Homo sapiens: one gene and its partners. The protein of the gene in region 1 purifies or fractionates together with the protein of each later gene. This does not show direct contact. Each region holds a gene or a part of one and is shown in the gene's direction. Other genes may lie near its edges.

The links.
Region 2: the proteins of CIP2A (region 1) and OCIAD1 purify together in Homo sapiens (co-immunoprecipitation; one large-scale study listed by IntAct). This does not show direct contact.
Region 3: the proteins of CIP2A (region 1) and USP33 purify together in Homo sapiens (co-immunoprecipitation; one large-scale study listed by IntAct). This does not show direct contact.
Region 4: the proteins of CIP2A (region 1) and ENOSF1 purify together in Homo sapiens (affinity purification with mass spectrometry; one large-scale study listed by BioGRID and IntAct). This does not show direct contact.

What each region holds. Positions count from the first base shown.
Region 1 is NC_000003.12:108,577,158-108,584,616, reverse strand, and holds part of CIP2A (protein CIP2A), read left to right. Parts: intron 1-1,533; coding exon 1,534-1,640; intron 1,641-2,414; coding exon 2,415-2,509; intron 2,510-3,105; coding exon 3,106-3,202; intron 3,203-4,928; coding exon 4,929-5,051; intron 5,052-5,190; coding exon 5,191-5,336; intron 5,337-7,459.
Region 2 is NC_000004.12:48,835,311-48,843,764, forward strand, and holds part of OCIAD1 (OCIA domain-containing protein 1), read left to right. Parts: intron 1-7,325; coding exon 7,326-7,379; intron 7,380-8,454. UniProt on the Homo sapiens protein: Maintains stem cell potency. Increases STAT3 phosphorylation and controls ERK phosphorylation. May act as a scaffold, increasing STAT3 recruitment onto endosomes. Involved in integrin-mediated cancer cell adhesion and colony formation in ovarian cancer.
Region 3 is NC_000001.11:77,747,888-77,753,352, reverse strand, and holds part of USP33 (ubiquitin carboxyl-terminal hydrolase 33), read left to right. Parts: intron 1-5,465. UniProt on the Homo sapiens protein: Deubiquitinating enzyme involved in various processes such as centrosome duplication, cellular migration and beta-2 adrenergic receptor/ADRB2 recycling.
Region 4 is NC_000018.10:672,028-680,481, reverse strand, and holds part of ENOSF1 (mitochondrial enolase superfamily member 1), read left to right. Parts: intron 1-1,744; coding exon 1,745-1,786; intron 1,787-2,609; coding exon 2,610-2,739; intron 2,740-3,037; coding exon 3,038-3,137; intron 3,138-5,079; coding exon 5,080-5,161; intron 5,162-6,075; coding exon 6,076-6,177; 3' UTR 6,178-7,484; coding exon of another isoform or gene 7,485-7,622; 3' UTR 7,623-8,454. Other genes in the region: TYMS (thymidylate synthase), read right to left, coding at 7,485-7,622. UniProt on the Homo sapiens protein: Plays a role in the catabolism of L-fucose, a sugar that is part of the carbohydrates that are attached to cellular glycoproteins.

The sequences.
Region 1 (7,459 bases):
TATCCAATGTAGCAGCCACTAGCCACATGGAGCTATTAAGCATTCGAAGTGTGGGTAATAGACTAAGGAACTGAATCTTTAATTTTAATTAATCTAAATTGAAATAGCCACATGAAGGCTAGTGGCTACCAAATTAGACAGCCCAGACATAGAGTAAAATGGGGTGAGCCTGTACCCATTACCACCAGCCCTCATCTTTTCAGCTTTGAGGGTATAATCTCATTTAATGGTTTGGTATGTTTCTTTGCAGATATTTTTCTGTGCTGTAACAAAACAATACTTTTGGATCTTTAATTGGTTGTTTTCAGCACAAATGGTGTTGTGGAGCACCAGATGTTTCTTTCCATATCAGTATCTTTAATAGCTGCCTAGTGCCTTAATTACAGGGTACTGTAATTTATTCAACTATTCCCCTAATAGTGGACAGTCAACTGTCTTTAAGTTTTTGCTATTGGAATCAATAGTGCAGTGAACATTCTATGTAATTTTGCTCAAATATTAGTGTGTTTCTATTAGATAAATTCCATTAGAATTTCTAGATCATTCTAAAATTTGATAACCGTTACTAAATTGCTTTCTGAAAAGATTCTTCCACTTCTAACATCCACCAACAGTTTGAATGAATATGCCAGTCACTTCCAGTGTTTATACTTTAGAAGCATTTGAGGTTTCCAGAAAAATTGAAATGATAATCTTTTTAAATTAATTTTTTCACAGATACATAATATTTATACAAACTTATGGGGTACATATGATATTTTGTTACCTGCATAAAGTATGTGATGATCAATTGAGGGTATTTAGGATATCCATCACAAATGAGGATTTATCATTTCTATGTATTTAGAACATTTCAAGTCATATTTTGAAATATACAATACATTGTTAACTATAGTCACCTTACTCTACTATCAAACATTAGAACTTATTCCATCTGATTGTGTGTTTATATCCATTAATCAATCTGTCTTCATCTCCCCCACTAACGGCTCCCCCTCACACCTCCCATCACCACACACTCACCCATATTCTTCCCAGCCTCTGGTAACTGTCATTCTCCACTTCCATGAGATCAACTTTTTTAGCTCCTACACATGAATGAATACATGCAATATTTTTCTTTCTGTGTCTGGCTTATTTCACTTAACCTAATGGCCTTCAGTTCCATCCGTGTTGCTGCAAATGGCATGCATTCTTTTATATGGCCAAATAGTATTCCATTGTGTAAATATACCATAAAGTGATAATCTTTTAATATTCAAAGTAAATGATTTTAATTTGATACTAAAATAATTAGTATCAAAGAAAAAGCTTGCTACAAATGTGTAAACAAGTTTTTTCTTTGATACTAGTTTATTTTACATAGAGAAATCATTTGAATTTCTGAATTGGAGGGTTATCATAAAGAAAATAAGAAAATAGCCATATCATACCTTTTTTAATAATAAATTCATATGAAATAAATTCTGTATGAATTATCTGCAAAACCTTGTAAGAAAATGATATATTTTGTGCTTTTATTTTAACTTATAGCAGTAGACATTGAAACCAGAGATTGTCTTCAGAATACATATAATCTGAATAGTGTGCTGGCGGGAGTGGTTTGTCGGAGCAGCCACACTGATTCGGTGTTTTTGCAGGTATACAGACCCACACAGTGTATTCCCCTTTCCTTACTGTCAGATCAAAATTGATAGTTTCTGTCATAAACTGCTGACTTACAGTGTATATATGCTATATAATAAATACTACATGATTAGGCACAGTTCATCTCATTAAAAGCTGGTTGCACACATACAATTTAAATGTTTCTAGAGAAGAGAAGCTTATCCATTTCTATCACCACTATTGAAGAAAAACAAATCTACATTATAACTGCTTTGACTTATAAACACAGATGTCTGTGTTTTGAGACATAAGCTATTTATATTAAAATTGTAACGTGAGTTGGCATCTAGTCTCAATCTGTGGAGGAAACGTTCTACAAAAATTAAAGCTGTAGATAGAGTCTATTTAATATAGATTCAAAGCTCTTCATATTTCATTGACTCTAAAATGTCATCAATTGTAAGAAAGAAAAACATCACAAATTAAATTGACATGCAGTTTTAGAGGTGATAAAATGTGAAGAAGGGTATCTTCTAATTGATGGACTACATGTGTGTTTCAAACTGCATTCAAGTTTAAGATGACTAAGTGAACAAGGTTGATAACCATGCTCTGAGACAGAATACGTAGAAATGTGTGAATTGAGAGAAGAGCCCTAAGGTTCTTACATTACTTTACATGTGTTTTTTAAAAAAATTGTTTTAGGAAATGGAAAAGGACATGCTCAGAATGTGCCTGAGAGTCCATTATTTTAAGCAGGCAATGTTTTTATATCTTTATATTTATAACTATTTTCTTATTCTCAGTGCATTCAACTTCTACAGAAGTTAACATATAATGTCAAAATTTTCTATTCTGGTGCCAATATAGATGAATTAATTACGTTCCTGATAGATCACATGTGAGTATGCAATCAAACATAAAACCAAATAGTTTATTTGTTTATTTTTAAATTACAACCATGTGGTAGATTAATTTTTCTTAGATAACATTTTCTAACATATAAACTGAGTGAGACTCCGATTCTTATTTGTTCTGCCCAGATGATTTTAAGGATCAAAAGTTGTAAAAGTATGTGACCTCATTCATTGGTGAAAAAATGTAAAAAGGAAAAAAAAATTGTAAAGCAACTTTAATTTTCATAAGAAAAATTTATGGACTGAATTGATTTGGCCAGAAAAAAATTACTGAAATTGAAAATTGTGTAGTTATTCTTGTAGGAAAATATACTGATGAAACAGCACATGGTCCACGCTGACAGTTACTTCCATGTTTTCATGATGGAATTGAATAGGGTAATTTGGTTTTAAAATGAGATAAATGATCAATACTATTCAAAGCTTCCCTGGCTTCTTATGTTAATTAGTTTTTTTTTTTGCGTGTAAAAGGGAATTGAAATGTATAAACTTAACTATATCATTTTGACTTAGAATAATGTTAATGCTTTTTTTCTTTTACTATTTTTTCTTTAAACAAAACACCAATGTAAAACAACAGTCAATCTTCTGAAGATGAGTTAAAAATGCCTTGTCTAGGATTATTGGCAAATCTTTGTCGGCACAATCTTTCTGTTCAAACGCACATAAAGACATTGGTAAGAAGTTTATTTCTTTTTAATGTTTCTTGTTTTATGGTAGATTCTCTGCTTAAAGAAAATTGTATTTATCTTTTTCTTTAAAACAAATTTGAACAAGGATTCTGTGTCTTATCGGATGACCCATCAAAATTAAGAGTCAGATTGACATACAAATAACTTGAAGCACTTCAGCCTTCGTGTATGTTGTATTGAAGACTGTGTGTTAAGGGTTAATGCAAACACTTATTTCTAAAAGTTTTCCTCAGCATGGCATCCCATTATTTATTACATTGAGTAGTACAAGAATTACTAAATTATTTTGTGCTCTTAGAAGGGAGGCACATCACTGGCAGTCCCATTTATCTCAGTCTTGTGTTTCCACAAAATCAATGGCAACCCCACCAGAAAGATTCATGAGTTAAGTGCTCAGTATGAACCAACAGTACTTGTGATAAATGAAGACACACAAATGAATTTAACTGAATCACTTTTAGAAGTATATTAAATCAGCTGGGCATGGTGGCTCACACCTGTAATCCCAGCACTTTGGAGGCCAAGGCAGGCAGATCACAAGGTCAGGAGATGGAGACCATCTCGGCCAACATGGTGAACCCTGTCTCTACCAAAATACAAAAAATTAGCCAGGCGTGGTGGCACACGCCTGTAGTCCCAGCTACTTGGGAAGCTGAGGCAGGGGAATTGCTTGAACCCGGGAGGTGGAGGTTGGAGTGAGCTGAGATCGCGCCACTGCCCTCCAGCCTGGCAACAGAGTAAGACTCCATCCTTAAAAAAAAAAACAAAGTATATTAAATCAAGCAAGTCACTGATTCTTTAAGGTGCTTGGTGAACAATTTCCCTGCTGTGCTATTCAGCATTACCCGTTCGATTTTAAATTTAATATCTCACTTGTTCAAGTGCTACATTTTTCTGCCCTGGTCTTACTTTGGAGGTGGAGTAACTGTGTGTGTGTGTGTGTGTGTGTGTGTGTGTGTGTGTTTCAATTTCTGAATTGAAAAAAAAGTTCATATGTTCATATTTAGGAAACACTTAAATATAAGGAAGAATAAACATTTGCTCATAGTTTCATGTGTAGAAACTGCTCTTCACCAAGATTGTGGCTATCTATATGACTGTCAGCAATATACGAAACTACCCATCTTGCTCACACATGCAGTGATCTCTTAAATCTAAATGCTAATCAGCAAATATGGCAAAGTTAATTGCTGCTCCACGGTGTGTAACGTAAAACAAATTCTTAAATTTGCTGAATTTTTTTTGCTTCCACCACAATTATGAGAGTTCCTCATTACAGTTCTTTTGTTAACACAAATGCTAACAAATGCTACAGTTCTTTTGTTAACACAAATCCTGCAGTATTTAAGGTAGCTCTTTTGTTTCCACTCTGCATGTGTCCCTTTATTAGAATTGACACCCTGATTTACCATCATTGAATTATTTATTCTAAGGTGACAAAACTTTGGAAATATTTATCTCCAACTCGTTTGCACGCATTTACCAAATTATTTTTTTCTGTAGGTACTCTCTTTATAACAATTTTTGAATTTAAATTTATCTCTGATCTAAATTTCTCCTGTAGAACATTTATCTTTTAAATGCAACAATCATTTAATAGAGTTGATAATGATGTTTAATAAAAGTTTGCCCACTCTGTGCAAGATATACTTTTTAAACCAAAACATAAAATTTATAATTCTAATTTATTTTTTAACTTTTTTTTCCTCAGAGTAATGTGAAATCTTTTTATCGAACTCTTATCACCTTGTTGGCCCATAGTAGTTTAACTGTGGTTGTGTTTGCACTTTCAATATTATCCAGTTTGACATTAAATGAAGAGGTGGGGGAAAAGGTAAATACAATTTTTCAAATTTATTCTGAAGTTTATAGTCTGATATTTTAAAAGTCATTGAGACTTTTTTATTTTTACCTTTTAGGATGGTGTCAACTTAATTTTTTGTCTAATATGCTTTTTCTAATTTGTCCTTAAGCTATTCCATGCTCGAAACATTCATCAGACTTTTCAACTAATATTTAATATTCTCATAAACGGTGATGGCACTCTAACTAGAAAGTATTCAGTTGACCTACTGATGGATCTCCTTAAGAATCCTAAAATTGCTGATTATCTCACCAGGTATGACTCACTTCAGTCAATTTTAGAACTTTTTTATTTTTAAACCAAGATGTGTTGGTTATAAACAGAATTGTCTTCTTAAAATATAATAAACTTGGATTCTACTGATTCACAGTAGACTAAAATGTTTTGATGTGCTTTACTCACACTCTTTTTTCTTTCCTGAACTGAAATGGAAAGTATAACAGGTCATTGTCTATGTGTGTATTTCAGTCTTTGCTTTAGATCAATAGGGTTGTGCCATTCTCCAAAATATAGACATCTTGGCTAATTTATTTTAAAACCAGTTTTAAAACGTAAGTAGCATTACGATTATTTGAAAGAGTATTTTTATTATAGGAACAATAAAAATAAATATTTCTACATAAATTATAAATAAATGAAACAGTGTTGAAACATTGATGTCATTATGTTTGTGTCTTTATTTTTTGTATAAAAATGGATAATGTTTCCTTTGGTGTGTGCCTCTTTTCATAGGTAAAATAGGAACATATGTCCTTTCTATCTCAGTGTATTTCATATGATCATTTATGTTTTGAGATCAGGTAGTAATTGTTTTCCAACAAGCTTGTGGCCTTTGTGCATTCTAACTTAAATTTTGCTGGGGCCTATGCTGCTTTGTCATCCTAAATTAGGAAATAATTGAAATTGTTTCAAAGAGTTTCACACACAAGAAAACATTTACTGAACCCCACCTATGATCAGGCACTTAGCAGCAATAGGATTTGAAGACACAGTCCCTGATGTTTAAGAAACATAGAATCTATAAGTTTTATTTTAATGAAAGCTAAGCACTAGGGCAAACTTGACCATTGTTCATATGGCTCAGCTGATACTTTGCAAAACCAAGAAGTATTCACTTTAGCATTTCACTTTTTCTTCTCTTAAGAATCTCTAGATAGGTGAGCTTTTTCTTCCAGAGTGCCTTCCCATGACCTGCCTTCTCTTCATCTGTTGTGAGATTCTCCCAATATCCATGTATATCTATTCTACCCACCAGATAGTGCTTATTCAGCATCTTCATAGTAAACAGAAAAATTCCTTTGAATAAACCTCGTCTGGAAGACTAAAAGATAATCCAGTTTAGCATTAATAAGAGGTAGCTTAATCATTTATTCTGTAAATCTCTCAGTTCTATTATCTATTTTATACTCTATCGTAGAATCCCAGAATCACCTCTGGCAATTCCTCTTGTTTTTCTGGTATGCCATTGAACAATAACCCAATCCTGAATCTCTTCCAAAGTCTAACTTAACTGCATGGTTACTAATTACAGCTTTAGAAAATCACACAACTTTACCTGGGCCAGACCTCTTATATTTACTTGTCAGCTTTCTCATTTCCTACAGTGGATCTTTCATATTTATTTATTTATTTATTTAGAGACAGAGTCTCGCTCTATTGCCCAGGCTGGAGTGCAGTGGTGTGATCCTGGCTCACTGCAACCTCCGCCTCCTGGGTTCAAGTGATTCTCATGCCTCAGCCTCCCAAGTAGCTGGGATTACAGGCACACGTCACCACGCCCAGCTAATTTTTGTATTTTTAGTAGAAAACGGGTTTCACCGTGTTGGCCAGGCTGGTCTTGAACTCCTGACCTCAAGCGATCCACCCGCTTCAGCCTCCCAAAGTGCTGGGATTACAGGCATGAGCTGCTGGCCTGGCCGGTCTTTGAAATTTTTTGTTTTTCTCTTGCTACCTTTTATGCAGAAGATGACCTTATCTTTGTTTCACAGAAAATAAATATCTAAATGGAGCCCCATTTGATTGGAGCTCCCTGAAATCCTTGCCCCTGGACAAACGTACCTATGTTTATACCAAATTCTTACTTAGTTTCATCCAGTTTCACTCATAAATATGTACCATTACTCTATGTATTGCCTCATTTTGTCTTTTCTGAAGCAGTTGCTCCTCTCTCTTCGGGGCCTCCTATTCAGTTGACCCTTCCCCTTTAACTTACAAATATGCTCAAAACTTTTTCTTCAACCAGATATCCCTTTTAAAATCTTTGACCTACCATTGCATTCAAGGTGAATATCCAGATTCTCAGTATAGCCCTTCAAAATCTGATCCCTAACAACCTCTCAACCTTATTTCTTCACACATTTTGTTTTTTTGTCTAATAT
Region 2 (8,454 bases), on another chromosome or scaffold:
TTTTTAAAGAGATAAATTAATTAGAATTGACTTACTGAAATTGAAAAATTTGAATAACTTTTGAGATTTTAAAACTCAAAATTTTCTCAAAATTTTACCAAATTTCAATTTGGTAAAAACTGAAGCCTCTTACAATTTTACAGTTGTGTTTTTCTGTAACATAAGGTGGAATACCTGAGTTGGAAAAAGACCTTTATTTGTTAAGCAAACAATACTTTAACAACTTTATAATAGTACTGTAGGCCAGGTATGGTGGCTCACACCTGTAATCCCAGCACCTTGGTTTTGTTTTGTTTTTTATTTTTGTAGATACTAGGTTTTGCCATGTTGCCCAGGCTAATCTTGAACCCCTGAGTTCAAGCGATCTGCCTGCCTTGGCCTCCCCAAATGGTGGAATTTCAAGCATGAGCCACTGAACCTGGCCCCAGCACATTGGGTGGTTGAGGCAGGAGGATCGCCTGAGACCAGGAGTTTGAGACCAGCCTTGGCAACATAGTGAGACCCTGTCCCTAATCCCCCAACAACAACAACAAAAGAATTAATAGTTAATAAGTAGATAAGTGAAGAGGAAAGGTGGAGTAGCATTTGGAAGAAAGGAGTAGTGAACAAAGGCAGAGTTTGCAATAACTTCATCTCTGCTGGAGCGGTGAGCCTGAATTGATTGGAACAGAGGTCTTTCATTGAGGATAGAACGTAAAACATAGTAATGAGTTAAAGGTTTGATCCATTATATCGTTTAGGTTCTTGAGCAGAGGGGGGTGATATGTAAGGTTTTTTTTAAGGAAGGTTAGTTAACAGTGTGCAAGATGGGTAGAAGGGTGAGAAGTTGTACTTGGTAAAATCTGTTTTGAGCTTTTGGCAGTAACTTAGGCATATATATGTAGTCAACGATGAGATATAGTTGATTAGTGTGTCATTTGGACTGGAAAAGATGAGCTGGCAACGAAAGACTTTTTAAAGGACAAATAAAAGGATTTTTTAAAAAGTTCGACTAAGGGGGAATGAAGGAATGGTAAGAGGGAGGTAATAGCTTTAAGATAACCAGCTTAGGAGACTCAATGATACCTCTGAATAAAAGGTTCATTTAGAAGGAGTTCTTGTTTGAAGATGAGTTTAGTTCAGACGTTTTGAGTTCATGGTGCAACATTCGATTGTCGAAGATTTCTAAGCAACTACAGATAGAAACAAAAGCATACATGAAAAATTAGTTTATTGTGGAGTTGTGTTGGTGAATTCGCCAATAAATTAAGTGTAGAGATAAAAGCATAAAACTGATAATAGTTTCTGCCCTGTGATTAATACTTAGGATTGATAGAATAAAGGATAAAGTTTGGATAGTACCCATGGATAAGGGAACAAGTGATAGTGAAAGAATCAACAAAGACCAAGAGCAGTTAGGAAGATAGAGGAGCTCTGATAGAATCTTTGTCATTTTATCCACCAATATTCAGAGACTTGCAGGTATTTCAAGCTAGAAAGAACCTGAATAAGAATTAGGTGATGATGTCCATTTTAAATTTATGATGACTATGCATCTAAAACAGTTATTCTCAACTGGGAGCAGAATAACTGGAACGAGTTGAGAATAATTGTTATAGATGCATAGTCATCATAAAGTAAGGGCTTCTATAAAATTTTCATGGCTCATTAGAATGGGAATAATTTCTTTCTTTTTTTTTGAGACGGAGTCTCGCTCTATCCCCCAGGCTGGAGTACGGTGGTGCAATCTTGGCTCACTGCAAGCTCCGCCTCCTGGGTTCATACCATTCTCCTGCCTCAGCCTCCCGAGTAGCTGGGATTACAGGCGCCTGCCACCATACCTGGCTATTTTTTTTTGTATTTTTACTAGAGATGGGGTTTCACCGTGTTAACCAGGATGGTCTCCATCTCCTGACCTTGTGATCCACCTGCCTCGGCCTCCCAAAGTGCTGGGATTACAGACGTAAGCCATCGTTTTTTTTTTTTTGTTTTTTTTTCTTTTTTCGGTGTTCTTTTTTTTGTGACTGGGTTTCACTCTTGTTGCCCAGGCTGGAATGCAATGGCACAGTCTTGGCTCACTGCAACCCCTGCCTCCTGGGTTCAAGCAATTCTCCTGCCTCAGCTTCCCAAGTAGCTGGGCTTATAGGCGCCTGCCACCATGCTCAGCTAATTTTTGTATTTTTGGTAGAGAAGGAGTTTCACCATGTTGGCCAGGCTGGTCTCGAGCTCCTGACCTTGTGATCTGCCCACCTCGGCCTCACAAAGTTCTGGGATTACAAGCATGAGCCACTGTGCCTGGCCAGAATGGGAAGAATTTCTTAGAGAACTTGGCTGTATACTCCAGCAACAGTTCTTTTTTTTTTTTTTTTTTTTAAATCTTTGAAGATTATATAGAGTAGATAGGATAAAATGATCTATTTTTAAGTCTTGATGACACAGGATTAAGAAAAAGGCAAGTGTGATAGAGGGGATTTGGGATTATTGTAGTGTTGGGCTAACGGTTAAATAGATGCTAAGGTGTCCAGATTTATTTCTGGCTGATAAATGTATGCTGCTGCAGGTGTTTAACAATCTAAATAGCTGTGACAGGTTTATGCCAAAAGTACATTAAAGGGTAGTGAACAATGTCAGGATGCCCGTGTATACCAGACTCTTAATAGTGGGACATGTGGTATATGAACAGTACAAAGCTAAGTGATTTCTGTGCATTAAAACAGATAAATCACAGGTTGAAAAGACAAAAAGCGGCTGGGCTTGGTGGCTCACACCTGTAATCCCAGCACTTTGGGAGGCTGAGGCAGGCAGATCACCTGAGGTCAGGAGTTCGAGACCAGCCTGACCTATATGGTGAAACCCCGTCTCTACTAAGAATACAAAAATTAGCTGAGCATGGTGGCAGGTGCCTGTAATTCCAGCTACTCGAGAGGCTGAGACAGGAGAATCGCTTGAACCCGGGAGGCAGAGGTTGCAGCAAGCCAAGATCGTGCCACTGCACTCCAGCCTGGGCGACAGAGCGAGACTCCATCTCAAAAAAAAAAAAAAAGACAAAAAGCATGTGATAAGGACAGGCTGAAAGACAGCTTGTTAATTTTATACCATATCTACATTACTGAGAAATTACAGCAGCCAAAAAATTACTGTATTAATAGGTAGCATTTCACTCTCAAAACAGATAACCAAGGTGTTGTTGCATATTATAGCATCAAACATTGAAATGTAGAAGCTTGGTTGTAACCAGGTGATAGGAAGTTCAACGTATAATTATCAGAAGGATGATAATCATACATAGGAAATTTTGTACTTTAACATTTGTACTTTCGAATTAGATAGTCTATGCTGTATGTGACATTTATGTAAACAAATAATGGCATCTGTTACTTTGGAGAGTATCACCTTGGATTAGAAAAAGGTGATAAAAGCATTTACGAATTTATAAAAAAGCACTTACTAAGGTAATTTTTTATACATTTTTTAGGTCTGTTAAAATACTTATCCTCTTCTAAAATTAGACTTGTTGATCTAGGGACCATTCTCTTTCCTTAAGATAACTATGTTTCTATACTGACCTACATTCCATTAATCTGAAATATAACTATGAAGGCATCTTATTTCTAGGTGCTTAAAATCGTGACCCTATGCACTGACCTAAAATCACTATGTCTGTGCCCAAACACACAGGTAGTGAAGACCCTGTGCATATAGGGTCAGTTTATTGCATATTCATGTTAAAATAGTTCTCAAACTCCAGAATTACTAAAAAGATGTATCAGTTCATATTTGTATCAGCTGGAGTCTATGAATAATATTTCATATATGTGTACTACTAGTTTTCAAATGATACAGTATAAGAGTGATAAGAGTATGGGCCAGGCATGGTGGCTCACACCTGTAATCCCAGCATTTTGAGAGGCCGAGGTGGGTGGATCACTTGAGGTCAAGAGTTCAAGACCAGCCTGGCTAACATGGTGAAACCCTGTCTCTACTAAAAATACAAAAATTAGCCAGGTGTGGTGGCACATGCCTGTAGTCCCAGCTTCTTGGGAGGCTGAGGCAGGAGAATGGCTTGAACTCGGGAGGCAGAGGTTGCATTGAGTCAGGATTGTGACATTGCACTCCAGCCTGGGTGACAAAGCGAGACTTCATCTCAAAAAAAAAAAAAAAAGAGTATGGACTCTGAGGCCTGATTGGCTGGATTCAAATCCCAGCTCCACACACAGTAGCTGTGAGATTTTGGACAAGTTCCTGAGGTCTGTGCTATACTTTTCTTATCTATAAAATGGGGATAACTGCCTAGCTCATGAAATTATTATAGGGATTAATGCAATTTAATTAAGTGTTGGCTATCTTTATTAAATAGCTATTAGTGTTATTATGATTAATGAAATAAAAATTTTTATTGACTACAGTTAGGAATATAGAGTAGCTTTTTGTTACTGTGAGGGGAGAAGAGTTCAAATAATTGTAGGGATTCTTGTATATATTGAATATAGTTTGGGACTGTGGTAATAATGTGCACTAGGTTTTGGTCAGCAGTATTACTGATTTGCCTATAGAGACAGATTATTTAACAAAATAGATATTACATACTGTAGTGGAAAAGGCCACTGACTAGGGAGTCAGGAGACTTGGGTTCTGATCTCAGCATTACCACAAACTAACCAGCTGTGTTGCTTTGAGCAAATGACTTGTCTTTTCTGGATATTAGTGTACTCAGATTGGAATGAGGACTAGATAATCTCTGAAGCCTCTTTCAGTCTTACCATTGTCTTTTTCTGTGACATAAAGTAGAATACCTGAGTTGGAATGAGACCTTAGGTCTAATCCATTATTCCTTTATAGCATGAGAAGAAGCTATGCAAAGACATTGTGGTGAATGGCAGAACTAGTACTAGAATCTCCTCGAACAGACTATTACTCTGCATTAAATGGGGAAAGCATTATCCATTGTAGAAATGGCCAGCTAACTCATTGCCTTTTATTCTTATATGATTCTTCAGTGCTTCATGTTGCAATCCTTGAGTCAAGCTGGAGAAAAATGATTGCAAATTGTACTGGTGCTGTAATTAAAAGGGATTTGTCCTTTGCAAAACCTTAAATGATAAATGATAATGCATGAAGGCATTCTAACTAGCCAACATTAAAGAAACCATATTTCCAGCAAAGGTAAAATCTGTTAGTAAGTAGGATAGCATGAATTCAGACCTTAGCGTTTGTGCAATTTGTGTGTGATGGCAAAGTTAATGCCCTATTCCAAAGTGATGGATTTTAATCATGAAATCTGTAATAATTCAAATGTCTTAATTACTTTGGTTCTTAAATTGTCCATATATGGTTTAGACCAGAGTTGAACAAACTAGCCCATGGACCAAATCTGTTTTTGTATGCATGAGCTAAGAATTGTTTTTACATTTTTAAATGGTTAAGAGGCTGGGTGCAGTGGCTCACGCCTGTAATCCCAGCACTTTGGGAGGCTGAGGTGGGCTGATTACTTGAACCAAGGAGATCGAGACCAGCCTGGGCAACTTGGCGAAACCTCATCTCTACAAAAAAAAAAAAAAAAAAGAAAAAAGACAAAAAATTAGCCAGGCATGGCGGTGCATGCCTGTAGTCCCAACCACTTGGGAGGCTGAAGCAGGAGGATCATCTGAGCCGGCAGGTTGAGGCTGCAGTGAGATGAGATTGTACCACTGCATTCCAGCCTTGGTGATAGAGTGAGACTTTGTCTAAAAACATAAAATAAGATAAAATGGTTAAGAAATCAAAGGAAAAGAATATTTCATTACGTGTGAAATTACATGAAATTCATATGTTTGCATCTAAAAATAAAGTTTTGTTGGAACACAGCTACGTTCATGTGTTTTTGGATTGTCTTTCGGTGCTTTTGCTTTAAAACGGCAATTGAGTAACTGGGACAGAGATTGGCCCACAAAACCCAAAATATTTACCATCTGGCTCTTCATAGAACGTGTTTGCCAACCTCAGGTCTGGAACAGCACTGTCCAGTGTGGCAGCCAGTAGTCACATGTAGCAATTTAACTTTAAAATAACTTGCAGTGAAAGGATATAAAGCAAAATCATAAAAGGAAAGGGAGCATGGGGTGAAGTCCGGCGGAAACCAGGTCCCAAGAGTTCTCTTCCCAGGGAGTGTAAATTTCTCCAACAGCTAGTCATAACAATGTGTGAAGTTGTATCTACCCGGGGAACTCATTAGAGACTCAGTGCCCACAGTTTTTATTGGGGGCTGGTCACTTATTCACCCTCTGCCTAACAGGTACCAAAATTCCAGACTCCTAGAATGAAAGCAGATGTTTGGCATGAACTGTATTTGTACAAACAGTTTGGGCACAGTGAGCCAATTACGCATATCAATGGGGGGAACTGTTTACCAGTCAAGTACCAAGACCAAATTGATCACAGGGTTGGTCACTCAAAGACCAACTTCCATTATCATAAAAAATTCTGTTAGACAGTGCTGGTGTAAAGAACAGTGATTCATAGCTGTTTTTAAGTTATAGCCCCCTTTGAGATTATGAGTTTTGGATTTTTCACTCTCGGTTTTAGGCATATATATATATAGATGTAATATTTTCATATAGTTTAAGGAGTTCACTAGTTTAGAAGAAAGAACATAAGTGTTTAAAATATGTGCTTTTTAATTTTTGCCCCAGCCACCGTATGATTACGGTCAAATATGTTTTGTATTTTGGTTTAGATGGTATACTAGAGCTTAAAAGCTTGAGATCTGGTATCAGACAGATTTTATTAGAATCTGTAACCAACCATTCAACTAGTTGTTTGGCCTTGAGCAAATTACTTAACATCTCTAAGCTTCAGTTTCCTTATCTTTAAAAGGGTGGTAATAACATTATCTACCTTATAGAAATATGATAAAAAGTATAATAAATGAGATAATGCACATAAGGCGCTTAGCATGATGCACAGAATTTAGTCATTACTCAGTAGTGGTTCTTACTTGTAACTTGTTTCTTACCTCTCCTTCATTAACTTTTTCCCCTTCTCTTACTTCAGAAGTAATTTTGAGTCACTTTTACTGTGTTGTCTTAGTTGATGCTGTTGATGAACAGCTGGCTATTTGGAACCTAAGCCTAGATGGTTCATGAATTATATTGTTTAATATTTTGTGATGTTTTCTTAAATTTAAAATGCTCCTTTAATTTTTCCACTATGTATACAGTACAGCTTTTAAAAATGGAACAGTCTTTTTTAAAGGTCTTAGTTATGCAATATAATTCCTAGATGGTTTTACTGCTATTCATTTATCTAATGAACTTTAGACAAAATCTTTTACTTTTGTTGATGTTAACAAGGTCTTTTTCTTCCTATAGCTGTGCCTTTGGCTGCAACAAGTATGTTGATTACTCAAGGATTAATTAGTAAAGGTAAATATTTAAAATTTGAATTTATTTAGCATTTTGGATACCATGTTTGTTTTGTGGTATTTTCCAGGTCTTTAGAAAAAGTAAAGATAACAATGTATCATATTAAACACTATGTAGAAATTCATTGATGAATTTAAACGTTTTATCTCTGTGGACCCACTGGCTCAAATATCATGACTTGAGAATTTCTCCTGCACTAATAGCATCATTAACAATCTGCAAGAGCAAGAAGGTAACTAAACACCAGTATTAGCAGGGCAAACCTGGTCTAGGTGGGCCAATAGCAACATTATTGCCTAGGAGCTTGTTAGAATGCACATTCATGGGGACCAGGAGTCTGTGTTTTAACAAATTCGAAGTGATTCTTATATAATGATTTAAAGATCAGTAGCTCTCTAAACCAGCTTTGTCTGATCACCTGGGGCGGATGAGTGGCGGTGAGTTAGCATTATTTAAAAAATCAGAATCTCAGGGGTCTGGCAGGTGATCTATTTTTAACGAGCCACCGAGGAGACTTTCTTGTCCTAAAGTCTATTGGCTCAAATAGTACAGTAGTGGAATTGAGTTTAGATTGAGTATTAAATGTCTTGAGTCCTGCATTTAAAATGTAGTGGAGTAAGCAGTAGAGTTGCTTAATTCCTTTACTTCATGAACTATCTATCTGGTAATGGGAAGGTGTCCCAGAAAAGGATGGTGACCTTAGGATGGCCTGGAGGCCTATTGTTTTAATTAACTGGCTCCTTCAAAAATGTGACTTAATGATTGGAAGATTTAGCCTTTTCACATTAGGATATGATGTATGGTACTTAGTTTTGACACAATTAGTTGATAAAAGTAGTTTTGGAGGCAAATGAGAGGATTTTTGGGGTAAAAATTTATTTAAGGAACTTCTGAAGAACTTCATTACAATACAGTACCATGACAAAAATCTTAAACATAGAAGCGAGTCAAGATGTATGCACTTATATGTCCTTAAGACTAAGCTGTTTTATAGACTGAGATTGGTTCTGTATTGTGAAACAACAACAACAACAACAACAAAACAAAAAAAACCCCACTTGAATTACATTCTTTG
Region 3 (5,465 bases), on another chromosome or scaffold:
GCCTCCCAGAGTGCTGGGATTACAGGTGTGAGCCACCATACCCAGCAAGACTGGTTACTCTTTTTATTCTGAAACCTTGAAACCTAGTGTTCTGTTGATTAATTGAGTAGGAATTGCTACTTCTTCAAGGGTCTAGAATCCAAATACCTGACCCCCTTTTTTGGTCTCAGTTTATATGGTTGATTCTTTGAATCCCAATGTCGAATATCACATCCATCATTATTAAATTTCGTCCTGTTAATTTTAGCTAATTTTTTTTATTTTTTATTTTTTGAGATGGAGTTTTGCTCTTGTCACCCAGACTGGAGTGCAGTGGCATGATCTTGGCTCACTTCGACCTCCTCTTCGCGGGTTCCAGCAATTCCCATGCCTCAGCCTCCCAGCTAGCTAGGACTACAGACGCACACCACCACGCCCTGCTAATTTTTTGTGTTTTTAGTAGAGACAGGGTTTCACCATGTTGGCTAGGCTGGTAATGAACTCCTGACCTCAGGTGATCCACCGGCCTCGGCCTCGCAAAGTGCTGGGATTACAGGTGTGAGCCACCACGCCCAGCCAATTTTAGCTTATTTTAAAAAATAGTTTAATTTTTCTTTAAAAACTTATTTTTATAATTTTAAGTTTATATTTTACTAGCCTGCCTTCTGTAGCTTTATCCAGGTTATTGTTAAAAATATTGAGCAGTTCTGACACCTGCTAGTGAAGACCTCCTGCATTCATATTAATCTTATATGTAACTATTAAATAGCTACCAATCCTTCTGACATAATTTTTTTTCTCTGTAATGTGAATCTGACTTTTTATGAAGAGCTTTACTTTTTGGAATAGACTAGGCAATGGAATTCAGGCAGTTTCTCAATATTAAAAGCTCCTTAGGTTACCAACTATGTCCTGATGTGTAATTATTATATTAAGGCCAGGCGCAGTGGCTCACTCCTGTAATCCCAGCACTTTGGGAGGCCGAGGTGGGTGGATCACTTGAGGCCAGAAGTTTGAGACCAGTCTGGGTAACACGGTGAAACTCCGTCTCTACTAAAAATACAAAAATTTAGCTGGATGTGGTGACACATGCTTGTAATCCCAGCTACTCAAGTGACTGAGGCATGAGAATTGCTTGAACCTGGGAGGGAGAAGTTGCAAGTGAGCCGAGATTGCGCCACTGCACTCCAGCCTGGGCGACAGAGTGAAATTCTGTCTCAAAAAAAAAAAAAATTGTACTAATAACATGGTTCCCTATACTTTTCCTAATATTAAAATTTGAATAGCTGATTGATTATCTTCTATTAGGATAAGGGGTCAGAATTTCAACCTGGAATTTGGAGATTGTACTACGAAAATATTCTCCCCTTAAAAGTAATATCTTCGGGCGCGGCGCGGTGGCTCAAGCCTGTAATCCCAGCACTTTGGGAGGCCGAGGTGGGCGGATCACGAGGTCAAGAGATCGAGACCATCCTGGCTAACACAGTGAAACCCCATCTCTACTGGAAATACAAAAAATTAGCTGGGTGTGATGGCGGGTGCCTGTAGTCCCAGCTACTCAGGAGGCTGAGGCAGGAGAATGGCGTGAACCCGGGAGGTGGAGCTTGCAGTGAGCTGAGATCGCGCCACTGCACTCAAGCCTGGGCGACAGAGCAAGACTCCGTCTCAAAAAAAAAAAGGTAATATCTTCAGAAGCAGTTTTGTTTTGTTTTTGAGACAAGGCCTAGCTCTGTCACTCAGGCGGGAGTGCAGTGGTGCAATCACAGCTCACTGCATGCAACTTCTGCCTCCTGGGCTCAGGTGATCCTCCCACCTCAGCCTCCTGAATAGCTGGGACTGCAGGGGCATGCCACCAGGCCTGGGTAATTTTTGTATTTTTTTGGGGTAGAGACAGGGTATTGCCGTGTTGCCCAGGCTGGTCTTGAACTCCTGGGTTCAAGCAGTCCTCCCGCCTCAGTCTCCTAAAGTGCTGGGATTACAGGTGCGAGCCACCATGCCCAGCCCAGAAGCAGTTTTGCATTTACTTTAATGCAGATGAGCAATTTAGCCACCGGAGCTGTACATCATAGAGCGTGAGTGCAGTCGTTTTCATCTGGAAAAATTTTCAGTTGGTGTTGCTGCCATCATTATTGGTGAGAAAACTTCCAGTAGTCCAGTTAGTGTGGCAGATAGAGGAAAAAGCTGCCAGATACAAGATTACAAAGATAAGGACAAACAGATAAAATCTTGTGCACTCTTTGTGATTTCCAACTTGTAAGTCACAAGCTTCTACAGGAGTCTTAGTTTTGCAAAATCTACTTCTGTGGATTGGACAATAGCATTTCCATATACAACCATTTTCTGTTTTTTTCTAATGTCTAATACTCATCTCCTGTGATTAAATTATCAGACAAGAATGGAAGCATACATGCCTTCTTTCTTTTGGTGTACAATTTGAGAAGAAATTGAAGTAGCTAAGAACTCCCATTGTCTTACCCTACTATATCTGAATGCCCTACCCTCAATAAACATTTGTCAAATAAAGGAATAAAAGAATGATTTTATTACCTTAGTAAATAAACTGAGTAAAACTAGGCAAAGAAAATACTAAGGGTTTTCTATTTTGATAGCATTGTATTATACGGGATACTAAATATCCTTGGGACAAATTGTTAGCCTTTGTTTACATGCACTAATTCTTTTCCTTTTTCTTTCTTTCTTTCTTTCTTTCTTTCTTTCTTTCTTTCTTTCTTTCTTTCTTTCTTTCTTTTTTAAGTCAGGGTCTTGCTGTGTTGCACAGGCTGGAGTGCAGTGGTGCAATCTTGGCTCACTGCAACCTTTGCCTCCTGGGCTCAAGGGATTCTCCTGCCTCAGTGGAACTACAGGTGTGCACCACCACGCTGGGCTGATTTTTCTATTTTCTGTAGAGAGATGGGGTTTCACCATGTTGCCCAGGCTGGTCTTGAACTCGTCAGCTCAAATGATCTTCCCGCCTTGGCCTCCCAAAGTGCTGGGATTACAGACCTGAGCTGTCATGCGTGGCTGCCCAGCCAATTCTTTCTTTCTTTCTTTTTTTGGAGATGGAGCCTTGCTCTGTTGCCCAGGCTGGTGTGCAGTGGCGTGATCACGGCTCACTGCAACCTCTGCCTCCTGGGTTCAAGTGATTCTCCTGCTTCAGCCTCCCGAGTAGCTGGGATTACAGGCACCCACCACTATGCACGGCTAATTTTTGTATTTTTAGTAAAGAAGGGGTTTTGCCATGTTGGCCAGGCTGGTCTCAGACTCCTGAACTCAGGTGATCCACCTACTTCGGCCTCCCAAAATTCTGGAATTACAGTCATCGCACCTGGCCCTGCCCAGCCAATTCTTATTAAATTGTTTAGATAATGCAAAATTAATAGCAGAGCAGAGAGAATGTATTTATGTTTTATTCTTTTTTTCATCTCAGCTATCAGCAGAGAGAATTTATTTTAATCTTATTTTTTGCTTGAGATTTTAGAAAAAAATATTTATCTTGGAAGTTTCTTTTCAATCCTCTGATCCCATTTCTTTCCTCTGAGGCAAAATAGTATTGCCTAAAAAGCAGTGAGAAGAACATCTACATTTCATTGGCAAATGCAGAATTTTTACTTTAGAGGAAAATACATAGCTTAAATACTTTCAGTAAACAAAGCGCTCAGTACTCATCTTTAGGGATTAAGAAAATAAAACCAGGCTGGGTGCAGTGATTCATGCCTGTAATTCCGGCACTTTGGGAGGCTGAGGAGAGTGGATCACCTGAGGTCAGGAGTTTGAGATCAGCCTGGCCAACATGGTGAAATCCCATCTCTACTAATAATACAAAAATTAGCCAGTCGTGGTGGCACACGCCTGTAGTCCCAGCTATTTGGGAGGCTGAGACAAGAGAATCGTACGAACCTGGGAGGTGGAGGTTGCAGTGAGCCAAGATTGTACCACTGCACTCCAGCCTGGGCAGCAGAGCGAGACTCCGTCTCCAAAAAAAAAAACAAACAAAACAAAAAACATAAAAAAATACAACCAAAGGCAAGTAGGATATGGATATTAATGGAATTGAAAACAGATCAGAACAAAAATAGTGGAGAAGATAAATAAATCCCAAATCTGGTTCTTTGCAAATACCAATGATCTAGATAAACATCTTGTAGAAGAAAAAGATATGGAATAAAAATGTACAAGATTGGGAATGAGTAAACACCATAGACCCCAAATACAGGAGACATTAATGGAATCTTTTGCAGATTTTCTTGAGAATATACATGTAATGCTATACTGTCAAAGTTATTTCAAGAGAAAATGGATGTTGTTATAGCAAAATGTCAATGAGTAAAATTGACCCAAGAAGTAAAAATGTTAATTGCCCAATCCCCATGAAAGGTTTGAAAAAATGATGGAAGATTGGTTCTTGACAGAGGCAGCATAGCATATAATTTCACAGCTGAGTTTCATTTATGAAGAACAACACATCATTATAATAAAAAGGAACTCTCTTTTCCATGATGAAGAATGCAAAGCTAGTCAATGCATTCTGTGAAGCACACATATTTTATCTCTGATAAATGCTGCCAATCCTGATTCAAGCACGGGGGGGGGGGGGAGGGAAGGAATGCTGCCAAAAAAGAACAGTCTCACTTATGCCCAGAAATGCAAAATTTCTAAATACAATATTAGCCATAGTTCATCAAGACCATTTCTTTTTTTTTTTTTTTGAGACGGAGTCTCGCTGTGTCGCCAGGATGGAGTGCAGTGACGCAATCTTGGCTCACTGCAGCCTCTGCCTCCCGGGTTAAAGTGATTCTCCTGCCTCAGTCTCCTGAGTAGCTGGGACTACAGGCGCCTGCCACCATGCCTGGCTAATTTTTGTATTTTTAGTAGAGATGGGGTTTCACCATATTGACCAGGCTAGTCTTAAACTCCTGATCTTGTGATCCACCCGCCTCAGCCTCCCAAATTGCTGGGATTACAGATGTGAGCTACCATGCCCAGCCCATCAAGACCATTTCTAATAAGTAAAGTAAGAATAGAGGGAAGTTACAGCAAATATCCTAAATGTCAAGAGCATTAAAATTAGAAACTTGATGGGGACTTGGGGATGCCCATGATCACATTTGTATTCAGTATTGTCTTAAGAGGTTCTGGTAAATGCATTAAAACAGTAAAAGTGAATAATGGTGTTAATATCAGAAAATAAGAACTAAAACTCCTCCCCTTGAAATAAGAACTAAAACTCCTCCCCTTGAAAAGAAGTAAAACTTTTTGAAAGGTTGAAACAAAATAAAAATGGAAAACTTATGTTTTCCATTACAGCCACAGTGTAGCCAGGGAAACCATGAAAAGGATTAGTGAGGAGGTGTGTCTTTTGTTACCAAAATATTGTATCTAGCCTCTGTAATCAGATTAATATGGTATTGTCATAGATTGGTGGAATAAAATAGAGAATCCAGAAATCCAGTATATGTGCAGATTTAATAAAAGATAAAGGTAGTATT
Region 4 (8,454 bases), on another chromosome or scaffold:
ATATTGAAAAGGAGGAAAAACATTTGGCCCCTAGTCTGCCATATATGCTTAAAATGGTAGAACAAATAAGTCAAATGGCCTTTCCTCCTCCCCCTTCCTCCGTTTCTCCCTTTCTCTTCTCTTTGGAGATAAATAACCAAGAGTACTTAAATTAGAAATTTTAAGAAGCATAAAATGTTGGCTTGAAAAGGTGCCTTAGAGACCATCTGCTCAAACTAAGGCCTTCTGCAGATGAGGAGGCCGAGGCTTTGGGTGGCACAGGCGGGGCTTGCCCAAGGCCACACATCCCGTGAGATGCGGGGCCAGCACCGGAATCAGGGATACTTGGCTGCTGAGTGAAGGGATTTTTCTGCTGAGAAGTTGGCTTAGTCTGATTATTCAGATGCCTCCTCTGGCTCTGGAATCAGTGGAGTTCCAACCCAGTCTCTACCACTTTCTAGCTTTGTGATCCAGGAACAGTTCAAACCCGGCACACAGTTTTATCATTTTTTATAAAATGGGGATAACGCTGGCTCCTCTCCCATTGGATTGAGACCAGGAATCATTTAAGTCAGTGTTTTGCACAGCACCTGACAGGTACTCAGAGCTCCAAAAATGTTAGCTGTCAGTGTGATTACTATTACCCTAAGCAAAGGGAAGGGAAGCCAGGGAGGAACCAAGGCTACCTGTGCGGAGTAGCTGTGGAGTCGCAGTCACAGTAGAGGATGGATGGGAGCGCCCAGAGTCCAGGTGGCAGGTGACGGAGGTAGTGTTCAGGGGCCAGGTGAGAGGACAGAGAGCAGCAGGGCTGTGTTCAGGTGCAGAGTCCAGTACCTCACCAGGTGAGGACTCTACCAGGTGAGCAATGGTCTCAGCCTAACCTGCAGATTGAGGTCTGAGGCCACCCACTGAGCTGGAAGGAAGAGGATTTTTTTTTTTTTCATGGATTTTTCCTGCCTTAAGGAAGAGGATTTTGGAATCAACAAAGACATGAGGCCAGGTGCAGTGGCTCACACCTGTAATCCCAACACTTTGGGAGGCCGAGGCGGGAGGATCATCTGAGGTCAGGAGTTTGAGACCAGCCTGGCCAACATGGCAAAACCCTGACTCTATTAAAAATACAAAAATTAGCCAGCATGGTGGCGTGCACCTCTAATCCCAGCTACTCAGGAGGCTGAGGCACGAGAATCGCTTCAGCCTGGGGGGTGGAGGTTGCGGTGAGCTAAGATCATGCCACTGCACTCCAGCTTGGGTGACAGAGCAAGACTCGGTCTCAAAAAAAAAAAAAAAAAAAGATATGAGAGGGTTCTAGAAGGAGGTTTCTCAGGGAGGCAAGAAGAAGGGAATTGATGGAGTGATGACCCACAGGAAGGAGTCGTCCAAAGGTTGGACCCTGTGAGTCCACAATGAGCCACTCCGAATAGCCCTGTCCTTATGCCACTGCGCAGGCTGGAGAGGGAGGTGCTGTCCACGTTGGGAGGAGCGCAGCTGGAGCATGGGCCGGGACACCGCAGAAGGAGATCTGCAGAGCCCTGGTCAGGAACGGGGCTGGTGGTGGCAGCTCAGCAGTGCTCACCTTCTCCTCTGCAGATACACAGAGCCCTCCCGCACGCATGTGTTCCCCTGGACATCCTTTGCCAGTCTTGAGCCTTCACATGGCTTAACAGCAGGGCCGTTTCCTCCTTCAGCTATAAATGTTTTTAAACATTAGGAGTTGCAGTTCAAAACTTAGGAAAATAACACCAGGCTGCCTTCTATTTTATAGGCACTGGTCCCATTAGGAATTGGCATTGCCACAGGAGAACAGGTGAGTGACGCCCCCAACAGGTGGATGACGTCCCCTTGGGGTCAGTACACGCTGACCAGTGACCGAGGACACAGTTGTGTGTTAGGCTCCATCACCTGCTGTACTTTGAGTTGGGAAATTTTCATCATCTTAGAAACTGGGTCATTTTATCAGAGTCTAGAGTCAGATATAGAAAAAGTTTGTGGCTATTTCTCCAATTTATATGACTAAGGTCGGGTATCTTTTTCAAAGTGTCTAATTGAAATTGAAAAGGCAGCAATTTAAAGTTGCTATTGCAAGGGCAGAAAATGGTCTTAAGAAAGCCAGCTTTCAAATTGAATAAACATGACTGCGTTCACTTTTTGAGCTTATAAATGAAGCCCGAGTGCCTGCCAAAACCTGCTGCAGTCAGCCCACGAGCAGAGCAGCGTGAGGAGCTGATTCTCAGTTTTCCCGGCAAAAGGAGCAATACTGCTCTGCCGTGGTTCCGTGTTGTCATCTGTGCCACCTGCTCATCACTGTCACCGTATTTCATCCTGATGCTTCATCTCCCACTTATCAGTCGCTGTGACAGTCATTCCCTCATAAATGGCGAGCCAGTGTGATTTTGACCTGACTCACACTGTTGCATTAGCAGATTTGTAAAGAAGTGAGCACAAGGTCCCTGCCCACGCTATAAAAGCTCGCCTCATGCCCAGCGAGAACAAAGAAGAAATACAGTCTGGGCTTCCTGACGGCCACTGATGAATAATTATTGGCATAGAGTGGCTGCGTTGCCAGGTTTAGAGATCCTGAAGGCCAAGGCTGACTCTTCTGTTGGTGTTATTTTCAATTCTATTTCCAGTGCCACAATAGAGTGATATTTAAGCAACTCCTACAGGCGAAGGCCCTGCAGTTCCTCCAGATTGACAGTTGCAGACTGGGCAGTGTCAATGAGAACCTCTCAGTATTGCTGATGGCCAAAAAGTTTGAAAGTAAGCGTGCTGCAGCGGCTGCAGACCAGACCTTCATTTCCCCACTAATCAGACACCTCCCTTGATGGTTTGCAATTCACATGCATGGGAGTCTGTAGTTTGCCATTTCGATTTTTTTCTAACTCTCATTTAGCTTTAATCCGGGAATTTTTGATGATTTTCATCTTGGAATTTCCTTCCTAAATATTAATAAATGATTTAATCACCTGTGGGCAATAAGAAAAACCAGAAAGTTCCCTTTCACCCCTTCCTCTCCCTGCCCTACTCTTGGTATTAAATAGAAACGATTTCCTTTTAGTTCCTGTTTGCCCCCATGCTGGTGGAGTTGGCCTCTGTGAACTGGTGCAGCACCTGATTATATTTGACTACATATCAGTTTCTGCAAGCCTTGAAAATAGGTCAGTAATGTGGCATTAATACTTTCTGTTTCAGTAGGGTCCCTCAATCCAGGCCAGAGCTTGTAAATTCTGCCTTCATGACCAGAACACACTAAGACCTTGTCCGCTGGCATGTCCTATAACTCTCAGGCGGAGTTGGTTTTGCTTTCACAGAGACCCACCAATGAACGGTCATTTTGCCTCCTAAGATAGGGTCTGGTAGCTGACTCACTTTATTTTTTAAGTACATTGAAGGTAAGGCTTGCAGCCACACTACTCCCTTAACCAGCTCCTGTTTTCATCACGTGTATTCTGTACTTCTGTCCCATCTCCTCTTCCCAGTACTGGAGTCTTCCATGGTCTAGACACACATTTATTTCATCTTATTTCTCAGAACGCCCCAGGTGGGCTTTTAAATTAGGACAATCTCCTTCCAGTCATCTGCACACGTAGGGTTTTGCTTATTCCACTTTTCTTGTCTCCTGGAATTAAATGTCTCACAGAAAGATCACTGCAAGTATATAGCAAAGGCACAAAAGCATTCACTGGGAAAGGGAAACACCAAATTCAGGACTGTGAGTGATAAATGGGACCCTTGAGGGTACATAGGAGGCTTCAGTAATAATGGTAACCGTTTTTCTCTTCAGGGGGGTAGTGAGTAGACAGGTGCTGTCTTTTAATATAGCCGAACTATTTTATACTGTATTAGTCTATTCTTGCACTGCTATAAAGAAATACCTGAGACTGGGTAATTTATAAAGAAAAGAGGTTTAATTGGCTTACAGTTCTGCAGGCTGCACGGGAAGCATAGCGGCTTCTGCTCAGCTTCTGGAAACTTACAATCATGATGGAAGGTGAAGGGGGAACAAGCACTTCTTATGGCCAAGAGCAGGAGGAAGAGAGAGTGAGGGGGGAAGGTGCTACACACTTTTAAACAACAGATCTTGTGATAACTATCTCGAACAGCACCAAGGAACGGGTGCCAAACCATTCATGAAGGACCACTTCCCATGATCCAATCACCTCCCAGCAGGCCCTGCTGCCAACACTGGGGATTACAGTTCAACATGAGATTTGGGCAGGGACACAAATCCAAAACAAATCCAAACCATATCAGCCTGCCTGTCACAGCTGTTCAATAACAGGCGATGGAAGTCAGGCAGCAGAGCTCGGTCACTTGCCCCAAGCCTCAGAACTACAAAGTGGCTGACGCAGAACCTGAACACAGATTGACCTGATTCTAAATCCTCTGCTCTTCATCTAAATCATTTGTATAGCTGAAAGGAACCTCATTTGGTGATTTTATTTTTTGGGTGGGGAGTATGGAATGTATTTTATTGTTCTGCATCTGGGTTTGCTTCCTTAGATGTCTTGGTTCTTGGATGGAGGTGGGTGTGTCCCACCTCCCTCAGTTGTGGTCCCATGGACCTGTTCGGATTGTTTTCCAGGTACAAAGTGTACCGAGAAAGCCTCACAGTGCTAATGCTTCCTAGATGCCCAGCTGAGGCAGTGACAAAATGGCCCTCCCAACCCTACCTGCCAAAAAAACCCCAAGCCCCTGGCAGCTGCTGCAGCCATGTGAAAAAATACAAACGCTTCTTGAAAAATAGATCACAAAATGTGGTGATTTTAATCTATTCATCTGACTTTTGACCAGAGGAACCCAAATAATTCTGGATATTTACAGAGTCTGAATTGATCCCTTTTAAAGGGCACCACAAAACCTCTAGAGGGACTTCGTGTGTTCATGTCATCAAAGTCCCCACCTCACATTGCTATATTTTAGAAGAAAAGGACCTGAGGCACAGAGGTTTAGGGACTTGCCTAGAAACGCATGGTAACACAGCTAAGCCTTGGCCAACACTGTCAATTGAGTGGTACTCGCTCCTTCTGCTTTAAGTTAGCACCACGTGAATAATCTGACTTCAGGCATCATTGCCCCGATCTGATTCCCTCCTCCTAGGGTGTGTGAGTATGTTGACCACCTGCATGAGCATTTCAAGTATCCCGTGATGATCCAGCGGGCTTCCTACATGCCTCCCAAGGTAAGCTGTGGCCTGAGGGCCCCTGTAGAAGAGATGCTGCCAGCCACTGCCACGCCTGTCTCGTGAACTAGACTGTGGAGCACCAAGCTTTGACTCCTGTTTGTTTGCAATATCCACTAACAAACGGTTCTTCAGTTTGTCTGTATCAAAATCCTCAGGCCTGAGGGCCAGGGCTTGGAGGTTCAATTGCCTCTGACAAGGCTTCTGTAATACTAGCCTTTCCTCACTAGTGGAGATCTTAACATTTGCACTCCTTGTGCAAAAAAACCTGGCACCATCTAGCAAGTTAGTGACCTAAAAAGTTTGGACTACAATTGTGTGGCTGGGGCCATTTATTCTGATCATGTTCAAGAGATCATGGCTCATTTTCACCAACAGAGGTCAAACTATTATCAAAGAGTTTGATGAGTTAACTAACTCTGGCAAGTAGCCAGTAAAATATGTTCCTCTGCCCTATTATTTCCAACAGTCTCCAAACTTATTTTAAAAATATTAATTCAGGGCTGGGCATGGTGGCTTACGCCTGTAATCCCAACACTTTGGGAGGCTGAGGCAGGTGGATCATTTGAGGTCAGGTGTTTGAGACCAGCCTGGCCAACATGGTGAAACCCTGTCTCTACAAAAAATACAAAAAATTAGCCGGGCATGGTGGCAGGTGCCTGTGATCCCAGCTACATGGGAGGCTGAGGCAGGAGAATCACTTGAACCTGGGAGGTGGAGGTTGCAGTGAGCCAAGATTGCGCCACTGCACTGCAGCCTGGGCAACGGACAGTGACTCCATGTCAAAAAAAAAAAAATTAATTAATTGCCTCTGGCTTAGACGTAAAAGCATTTCTTGGAGCAGCATAAATGCATAAAATCTGTTTTTGTTCCAGGTGGTTGTTAACAGGACTCATTTTTTTGGTCTTTGATAGGATCCCGGCTACTCAACAGAAATGAAGGAGGAATCTGTAAAGAAACACCAGTATCCAGATGGTGAAGTTTGGAAGAAACTCCTTCCTGCTCAAGAAAATTAAGTGCTCAGCCCCAACAACTTTTTTCTTTCTGAAGTGAAAGGGCTTAAAATTTCTTGGAAATAGTTTTACAAAAATGGATTTAAAAAATCCTACCGATCAAGATGAGTTCAGCTAGAAGTCATACCACCCTCAGGAATCAGCTAAGTAATTATTACTTGATTCTTTTAGCAAATCAATGCACGTTATCCTACTTAATCCTTAAATAAGTTTAGATTTAACTAACCCAAAGTCCAGGAGGATGTTCTTACAAAAATAGCTATATCAAGGGCTGGCACCTAGACATTAAACTGTAATTTGAAAATAAGCAACATGTTGCATAACTTGTTGGAATAATTCCTTGTTCTGTTTAACACTTGTCATAAATTAGCAGAATAAAAATAGTCGTGCAACACCGGGGGTATCTGGTATGCAACGAAGGGAAAAATATTTCACTGATTAACCCCGAAGTGGTTTTGCATCTTTTCCTTGCTTAATCTAAGCATATTATTAGAGAAGTCACACCATGCTGAAGCTAATGAGGGCAAAATGGTAGTCCATAGATTATTTTAAAATAACCCTTTAAGGTTATAAAAGTTTAAAAAAAAAAAAAAAAAACTCTATCCTAAATGGTCATTATATTTTGAGGATAAGATGCAGTTAAAATGAGAAAAATAGGGCAAAATATATTCACTATTATTTCTAAAATATACTCTTTTAAGTAGCATCCAAACCAGAATACAGCACATGTTTACTTAAGGAGAGTTCTTTAATCTATTTTAGGAAGGAACTGAGCAGATAAGTGGCAGTACAGAATGAACAAAGCGTGGACGAATGCAGAACACTTCTTTATTATAGCAACATATAAAACAACTATAACTTTAAAGTTCATAACCACACTCTACATCATGATCGATGGTGTTACTCAGCTCCCTCAGATTTGAGGGAATAGCTTGTGAAATTCTTAAAATATTCTAAAAATATTCCAAAAATAGCTTGTGAAATTCACCAACCTTCTTTATAAGTACGTGGGATTGAAATGCACATACATGTTTTTGCTAAGAGCACATACATTTCATTCTCCTCACTTTGTTCATAACCTCAGCATTGTCAGATACCCTCAGTGAGTTAACTCAAAGCCTTTTATTATGGAAAGAACTGGCACAGTTACATTTGCCAGTGGCAACATCCTTAAAAATTAATAACTGATAGGTCACGGACAGATTTTTGACCTAGTTCCTTTTTCTTTTAGAGCAAAAAGAACTTTTACCTCGGCATCCAGCCCAACCCCTAAAGACTGACAATATCCTTCGAGCTCCTTTGAAAGCACCCTAAACAGCCATTTCCATTTTAATAGTTGGATGCGGATTGTACCCTTCAATCTGAAAGTCTTCAGCTTTGAAGTCATCAATTTTCTCAACTTTTCGAAGAATCCTGAGCTTTGGGAAAGGTCTGGGTTCTCGCTGAAGCTAAAAACAAAATAAGGCCATTATTTTGCCATAATTGTACGACCTGTTGTAATTGCTCCTCATGTCCGTGAAACAAGTACACAGGATGTGATCAACAAAGTTCTATTTTACAGGAGTATGATCCTGTCGATACCTTGCCGTAGGTTATGTAACATGATTGGAGCGCAACCAGCTGTTCTCTTGCACAGATCGAGAGTGAGGGGTATTTTGTGACATTACACAGCATCAGGAGCCTGGTGCCTCATCAGGTGTAAGTTCTTATAACCACTCTTGGCAAATTTATTAAAGACAGGAACACAGTCAATCTGTAACTCATAGTAGCTCTACGTTTACTTGAATTCCACAATCCCTAACCCATCTGTCCCTGGCAGAAAGAAGGAAAGATGACATGCATGGACAGTGAACAGAAAGGGATGAAAGCCAGGATTCCTGGGATGAACAGACAGTGGCAATTAGGATGTGAAGACAGGTCACAACCTATTACTATGTCTAAAAACGACCAGAGCAGAGAGCCAGAGAGAATAAGCCTGAAGTCACCTCCACTCAAAAGCAGCCAAACTCCCTCAAAGGAGTAACTTTTAAAACCTGGATCTAACCTGGAAGGGGCTAAAAAGTGTCTGGTTCTGAGTTTTTTTCCTTAAGGCTCATGAAGCAGATGAACTTACATTTTTATTGCCATTTCATATCAATTGTTGGCTGCTATAACTTAGGGATTTCAACAGACTTTTGAAGTTTGGACCTAAATATTGTACTTAATGTAAAATTAACAAAAAATATTTATGGCCAGGGTGGTGGCTTATGCCTGTAATTCCAGAATTTTCGGAGGCTGAGG